Linked DNA regions of Homo sapiens. The protein of the gene in region 1 purifies or fractionates together with the protein of each later gene. This does not show direct contact. Each region holds a gene or a part of one and is shown on either strand. Other genes may lie near its edges.

Region 1 (3,847 bases):
CCAATATGGTGAAACCCCGTTTCTATTAAAAAATACAAAAATTAGTTGGGCGTGGTGGCACACGCCTGTAGTCCCAGCTACTCAGGAGGCTGAGGCAGGAGAATTGCTTGAACCTGGGAGGCAGAGGTTGCAGTGAGCCGAGATCGCGCCACTGCACTCCAGCCTGGGAAACAGAGCAAAACTCCATCTCAAAAAAAAAAAAAGGGGGGGGATTAGAGTGATTTTTTTAAAGCAACTTTTATATTGTGTGATGAAATATGTCAGCATTTAGAAGATCTGCATAACTCAAGTGAACTAGTATTTTCCAAATGACCAATCCATGATGTTACAGACTCACACACAGGTAAAAGATCCATTCAAAGTAAAAGATAGACCAAGAGGTTATAATGTCGCAGAGGAGCACAAGTTCTTTGGCACGGTTTCAGATTCCACATTGCAACCCATGGTAAGAAATTACCATGGCCAGACACACTGGCTCACACCTATAGTCCCAACACTTTGGGAGGCCGAGATGGACAGAACTGTTGAGCTCAGGAATTCAAGACCAACCTGGGCAACATAATGAGACCCTGTCTCTACAAAAAAATACAAAAATTAGCTGTGGGTGGTGGTGCATATCTGTCCCAGCTACTCAGGAGGCTAAGGTTGGAGGATCACTTAAGCCCAGGAGGTTGAGGCTGCAGTAGGCTGTGTTCATACCACTGCACTCCAGCACGGACAACTGAGTGAGACCCTAAAAAAAGAAATTACTACTAACTGAATTTTAGTGTAATAGCAGAGAAGAATGCCCACAGTTATTTGGAAGAGCTAGTAAAATGTTGCTCTCTTTTCAAACTACATGTCTGTGAGACCAAATTTTCTTTATCACTTAACATACTCCAGTGGACTGAGGGAAGAGCAGAGATAGGAATCCATCTGAATTCTTTTTTTATTTTTTTATTTTTTAGACGGAGTCTCACTCTGTTGCCCAGGCTAGAGTGCAGTGGCGCTATCACTGCAAACTCCACCTCCTGGGTTCACGCCATTCTCCTGCCTCAGCCTCCTGAGTAGCTGGGACTACAGGCGGCCCCCACCACGCCTGGCTTATTTTTTGTATTTTTAGTAGAGATGGGGTTTCACCATGTTAGCCAGGATGGTCTCGATCTCCTGACCTCGTGATCTGCCCGCCTCGGCCTCCCAAAGTGCTGGGATTATAGGCGTGAGCCACCGCGCCTGGCCCCGAATGCTTTTAATAGAGCTGTCAGACTTAGCAAATAAAAATACAGCACACTTAGTGACATTTGAACTTCAGACAACAACAAATAGTTTTATATACAAGTAGTTGCAGCCTGTATTTTAACTGGAAACCTTATCTATTAAGACAGACATTAGGTTATTTTTGTTTTGAAAAATAGATAATTTTACAGAAATAATATGTAGTTGGTTTGTTTTTATTTTTAAATGAGTTAATAAATTGTTTTATTTTAAAAAACACTTAAGAATTCCCCAGGTTTGCTTTCTAAGAAAGTAAATACTAATACATGCCACCTGTATACATAAAAGCTCTTCAGAGGCCACAGTAATTTTTTAAAGTATAAAAGGCCCTCAGAGTAGAAGTTTGAAAACCAAAACACTGCTTCAAAGTATTGCATGCTATTGGTTACCAAAGGTGAAAATCAGTGCTTACTGTGTGTTTTGAAGTGTGGGCTGTAAACTGTAAATGCTTTGAATAAGGGAAAAGGAGTTTTTCTGGTAGATTTTGAACAAAGAATATTCTGAGGCCTCAGGCTCATACTTATTCAAATGAACTAGGAGGGCTTCCTGAAAGATGGATAGGACTTGGAAAGGATGAGGGGCCCTGGAGCAGGCATACAGCAGGTATGTGGGAGTAGAGAGCAGCCAGGCAGGTCATGGCCGTGGGCAGAGGCTTGGAGCACTGCTGGGTGCTCCTGGCTGCCGCGGTCCTGGAGAGTCAGGCTCCCAGCAGGGAGCGCCAGAGATGCTGTCCCAAAGGAGGGTGATGAGGTGAAAGCTGTGCATGGAAGAGGGTGTTTAGTGAATTGGGTGAGAGAAAGATTAGAAGAAAGAGCATCAGTTAGGCCACTGACAGTAATGCAGAAATGGCCGAATATATATTTAATCCAAATAATCATCACATTTTAAATAAAACAAAATGTGTACTTTTGCTTGACTTCATACATATTTTTTTCCTGATTTCCCAAATTATTTTCTCCTGTCTAAGATAAAATCTCTATTTAGGCCAGGTACAGTGGCTCACACCTATAATCCCAGCACTTTGGGAGGCTAAGGCAGGAGAATTGCTTGAGGCTAGGAGTTTGAGACCAGCCTGGGCAACATAGTGAGACCCTGTCTCTACAAAAAATACAAACTGAGCCGAGCATAGTGGCATGCGTCCACAGTCCCAGCTACTCAGGAGGCTGAGGCAGGAGGATCACTTGGGCCCAGGAGTTTGAGATTGCAGTGAGCTATGATTGTGACAGAGCGAGACCCTGTCTCAAAAAAAAAAAAAAAAAAATCGGTATTAAGATCTGTTACGATACTATTGGGAAGTAAATGGAAAAATGTTGATACTTAAGGTACTTGCAACCCCAAAGGTCTGCTGAATTTAAACTCTGACATTTGATTTTTAAGTTTGCAGGTTCTATTTGCCCTTTGTAAATTCAGGTAATTGTAAATAGTTGTATAGAAGGAGGACTCCCAGTAATGAGAGGACAAAGGACCATCCTTTCACGCCCTGCGGTGTGTACTCCCACATCCCAACAGGACAGGAGAGCCAGCAAGGAATCCACTGCAAGACCTTTGTCACTTGCTGCTGCATACGAGTTTTGTTTCCTAGGCGGCCACTTACTGAGAGTGAATGCTGCCTTGTTCAGAATGTGTTTGCAGTAATTCTGCTTAATAGTGGACTCATCTTTGGGGAGGGAAATAAAAGGTATTGTATGATAAACAGTGTCTAATATCGAGAAAACCCTTTGAACTAGACAAGCTGCTTTCTTCCCCTTCCCTCTTAGGAACGTCATATGACCGCTCACATTCGTACCCACACTGGAGAGAAACCATTCACCTGCCTTTCTTGCAATAAATGTTTCCGACAGAAGCAACTTCTAAACGCTCACTTCAGGAAATACCACGATGCAAATTTCATCCCGACTGTTTACAAATGCTCCAAGTGTGGCAAAGGCTTTTCCCGCTGGGTAAGCTTACTTAAGTCACAGTAAATCCCCCATGGAAAGATCCCTCTATCTCAGGAGGACAGTGTCACACCAGGAGAGTTTAAACCCGATTATAGAAACCTGCCAGGACTTCAGGAGCATCTGTCATGCCTTAGGAAAGTGGTTATTAGTTTTTTAAAATCACAAAATTCTTGAAGAATCCTATGAAAGTGTGGTCTCCTCATCCCCTAAAAAAAAAAAAAAGGACAATCCAACACACAAAATCTTACAATAGGGAGTTATCAGACTCCCCAAAGAACCCCACCTTTTAGTGTAATATTTTCAAACAGTGAACTAGATTTAGGCTACTTGACAGAGAGAATGCAGTTTTCACACATTTTTTCAGATGTCCCTAGAATAATGTTATTGGTGTCTATAATCCCAGCTACTTGAGAGGCCAAGGTGGGAGGATTACTTGAGGCCAGGAGTTTGAGATCAGCCTGGGCAACACAGGGAGACCCCCATCCCTCCAAAAAAATTAGCTGGTTGTGGTGGTGCACCCCTGTAGGCCTAGCTGCTCAGGAGGCTGAGACAGGAGGACCACTTGAGCCCAGGAGTTGGAGGCTACAGTGAGTCACGATCGCACCACTGCACTCTGGCCTCAAAGACAGAGTGAGACCCTGTCTCTAAAATAA
Region 2 (3,073 bases), on another chromosome or scaffold:
TGCTGACCTGAGGCCATGCAGCCAGACTGAGGAAGAACAGGCCTGCCTCTTCCCTCACCCTGCTCCCACCCAGTCAGGCTGAGGAGATCAGGCCAGACAACTTGTTTGGGTTTAGAGACAAGGGGGCTTATTATGCTGGCGGCACCAAGGCACTAATGGGGGGGGGTATACAAGGGTGGGGGTGGCCCCAAGGCCTAATCCCTGTAATCAGTACTGTGGGCAGAGATGATGATGGGCCTGGCTTCTGCAGGCGCTGAGGTCACCTGGACTGGCCTCCCCCAGCCAAGCAACAGCCCCTGGCCCTCCCCAGGCCCCAGCACTGCTCCCTGCAGCTTGGGTCTGTCTGCCCTCATCCCCCCAGGTCCTCCTCTCCTCAGGAGGCAGCCCCTCCCCAGCACCAGCTTCCTCCTCTCCCCCGCCACCCCCCGCCCGCCCCCGCCATCTCTCTCCTGTACTAACCCTGAGGGTCCCCTCTGAGTGGGGGAAAGAAGAGTCCAGACTTTGAAGCGGAGGCATTACTTTATTCAGGCAGGGACTAGCCAGGCAGGGCCACAGCGTGGCAGGGATGGGGGGAGTCAGCACATGGGAGTGCCGTCACCTCCATTAGCCACAGGCCAGACGGCCCAGGAGGGCGTGCTACTGCAGTGAGATGGTGCACTACTGCAGTGAGGTGGCGCAGGGCTGGTGAGCTTGGGCACAAAAGCCAGCATGTCACCCTCCCTTTGGAGAAGCCTCTGGGCCACAGGCCTTTTCCAGCTGACGGGATGCGGAGGGAAGGGGACCTAGTACTATCGGGATTCAGCTGACTTAGCCTATGAGATGGAGCAGGCAAGAGATTCCCTTTGCAGGGTGGGAGGTTATATTCCTACAGCCTCCATTCTTGGAGTAGGCTCCTTTGCCACACCCCTTTTCACCTTAGCGGGCCAGGCCTCTCAGCCAGAAACCATATGTCAAGAGATCGTAAGTTAAGAGTGCTGCTCCTGAGCAGGGAGCGGGCTTGGAGGCGTCCTTCCCCTCCCCGCACCCCTAAGTCCCCAGTGCCGGGCAGATGGTCTTTTCCTAGTCCTCCCCTGAGGACCAGGACTCTCTATCTCCTTCCCTCTGAGTGAACTTCAGGAACTGACCCTGGCCCAGGTGAACAGGAGCCCCTGCCCAAGAGGTCTTCAGAGCACTCCCCTCCTCCTCCTGAAAGGGGCTCCCTCGGTCTCCCTCAGAGACTAGCGGCATTCCTTGCCCCACTTCCTCAGACTGCTCCAGCCCGTTCATCACTCCCCCATTCACATGCTGTGACTTCCCCTCCAAGTTGGGACCCTGGCCATTAACACCAATGATGTCTGCCCCTGGGCCTGCATCCTCCATCCCACTGGGGATCTCTAGAGGGCCAGGGACTTTGTCCTCCCTCTCCAAGGAAACAGGGTCAGACTCTTCCTCTGAGCCAGAAGGCTCAGCACTGTCCTGGGACTCCGTTTCCAGGGCAGTCTTGGGGGCACCAGCCACTGCACCCCTCAAGCTGTCATCCCAGGGGACACTGACACTCACAGAATCAGACTCCAGGAATTCCCCTCTCTGGGAGCTACTCAGGGCCTGGAGGCTGCCAACAGAAGACCCTGGCCCCCACCGCCCAGCCCCTGGCTCCCTCCCCTCCTCCTGATCCTCCTCTCCCTCCTCCCCACTTTCTTCCTCATCTGCAAACCCATCGGACTCCCCATCTCGATCCCAGGCTGCAGGATCCAGTAGCAGCTGGGGCACCTGGCCCAGAGGTTCTGCCACCTCCCCAGGGACCCCAGGAAGAAAAGGTGCCTCAGTCCCCAGGTCCTCAAATTCTTCTGACAGGTCAGAGTCACGGCCACACTCCTCTTCTCCCTCCTCCCCCTCCTCCTTTTCTGAGGGTGGGGCCTCAAGGCCCTCGGAAGCCAGGACAGCAGGATCCCAGCCCTCCTTTCCAGTCTCCCCTTGAGGGGGTGGCCTCTGCTCTCCAGTGGGGTCCCACCTGGGGGAGGTGGGGGACCTGAGGTAGAAGCCCAGGGGAGTGGAGTCTGGAAGGGTCTCCCCGAGCTCATCCTCCTCGCTCTCTTCTCTGCTCTCCTCCCCTTCCTCCTGGGGGCCCTCGGGGATCTCCCCAGAACCCAACTCCTCCTGCTCGCTCTCTACTTTCCCCAGGGCTTCAGCCCTCCCCTGCACCCCCCAGCTAGCCTCCTGACTCCCTTCAGCCTGAGGCTGAGGCCCAGGGGCATCTTCCAGGATCGGGGTGTACGTTGGGCTGGGGGAGACCAGCACTGGTGGTACATCCTCCTCAGCTTCCTCTGACCCCAGAGGCCAAGGTGAAGGGGCATCACTTCCAGTGTGGCCCAGGGTCTCAGCAGGGAACGCCTCCTCTGCTCCCCTGGGGGCCTCAGCCTCTGACTCCTCCCTACCCTCCCTGGGAGGCTCCCAAGGGTCTCTGCTCTTCCCAGGCAGCTCGGAGAACTCTGTCCCCAGACCACCTGCCTCCTCTAGGTCCTTTCTAGGCCCTTCCAAGCCCTGAACCCTCTTTGCCTCCAAACTCTCCTCTTCCAGGGGTGGTTCCATCACCTCTTCCCTGGTCAGATGGCCTGGGTCCCCCAGCCCTCCCACCCCCTGCCCCGGGCCTGGCTCAGCTCCCGCAGCAGACTCACCCATGGCAGGCTCTGACCCCAACATGACCTCTGGGGAGGCTTGGTCACCCCCTGGGGCCACATCATCTTCCACCAGGGGCTCTATCGCCTCTGGCAGCCCCTGGGGAGCCTGGAGGCCTGGGGCCCCCACCTGTTGTGATTGCCCTTCAGGGTCCTGGAGGCCCTCAGCCCCTCCCTTCACACTGGCTCCCTCAACCAGGCCTCTCTGCTCTTTGGGCTCAGGGCTCTCTGGGTGCCCCTCGCCTGGGATCCAGACCTCCTCTGTGGCATTCAGCTCTCCCTGCTCTACCACCTCCTCCTTCCCAGTGAAGCCATCCTGCTCCCTCAGATTCAGCTCTGCCTCATCCTCATTTTCCACTCCAGCCATCCCAGGAGGGCTTTCCTGAGCCAGTTCTTGGTCCTTCTCCACCGTATCTTCC

What was found. The genes of interacting proteins can lie anywhere in the genome.
Region 2: the proteins of CTCFL (region 1) and NES purify together in Homo sapiens (affinity purification with mass spectrometry; one large-scale study listed by BioGRID and IntAct). This does not show direct contact.

The regions. Positions count from the first base shown.
Region 1 is NC_000020.11:57,507,953-57,511,799, reverse strand, and holds part of CTCFL (transcriptional repressor CTCFL), read left to right. Parts: intron 1-3,011; coding exon 3,012-3,194; intron 3,195-3,847. UniProt on the Homo sapiens protein: Testis-specific DNA binding protein responsible for insulator function, nuclear architecture and transcriptional control, which probably acts by recruiting epigenetic chromatin modifiers.
Region 2 is NC_000001.11:156,668,263-156,671,335, forward strand, and holds the end of NES (nestin), read right to left. Parts: coding exon 1,060-3,073; 3' UTR 501-1,059; downstream 1-500. UniProt on the Homo sapiens protein: Required for brain and eye development.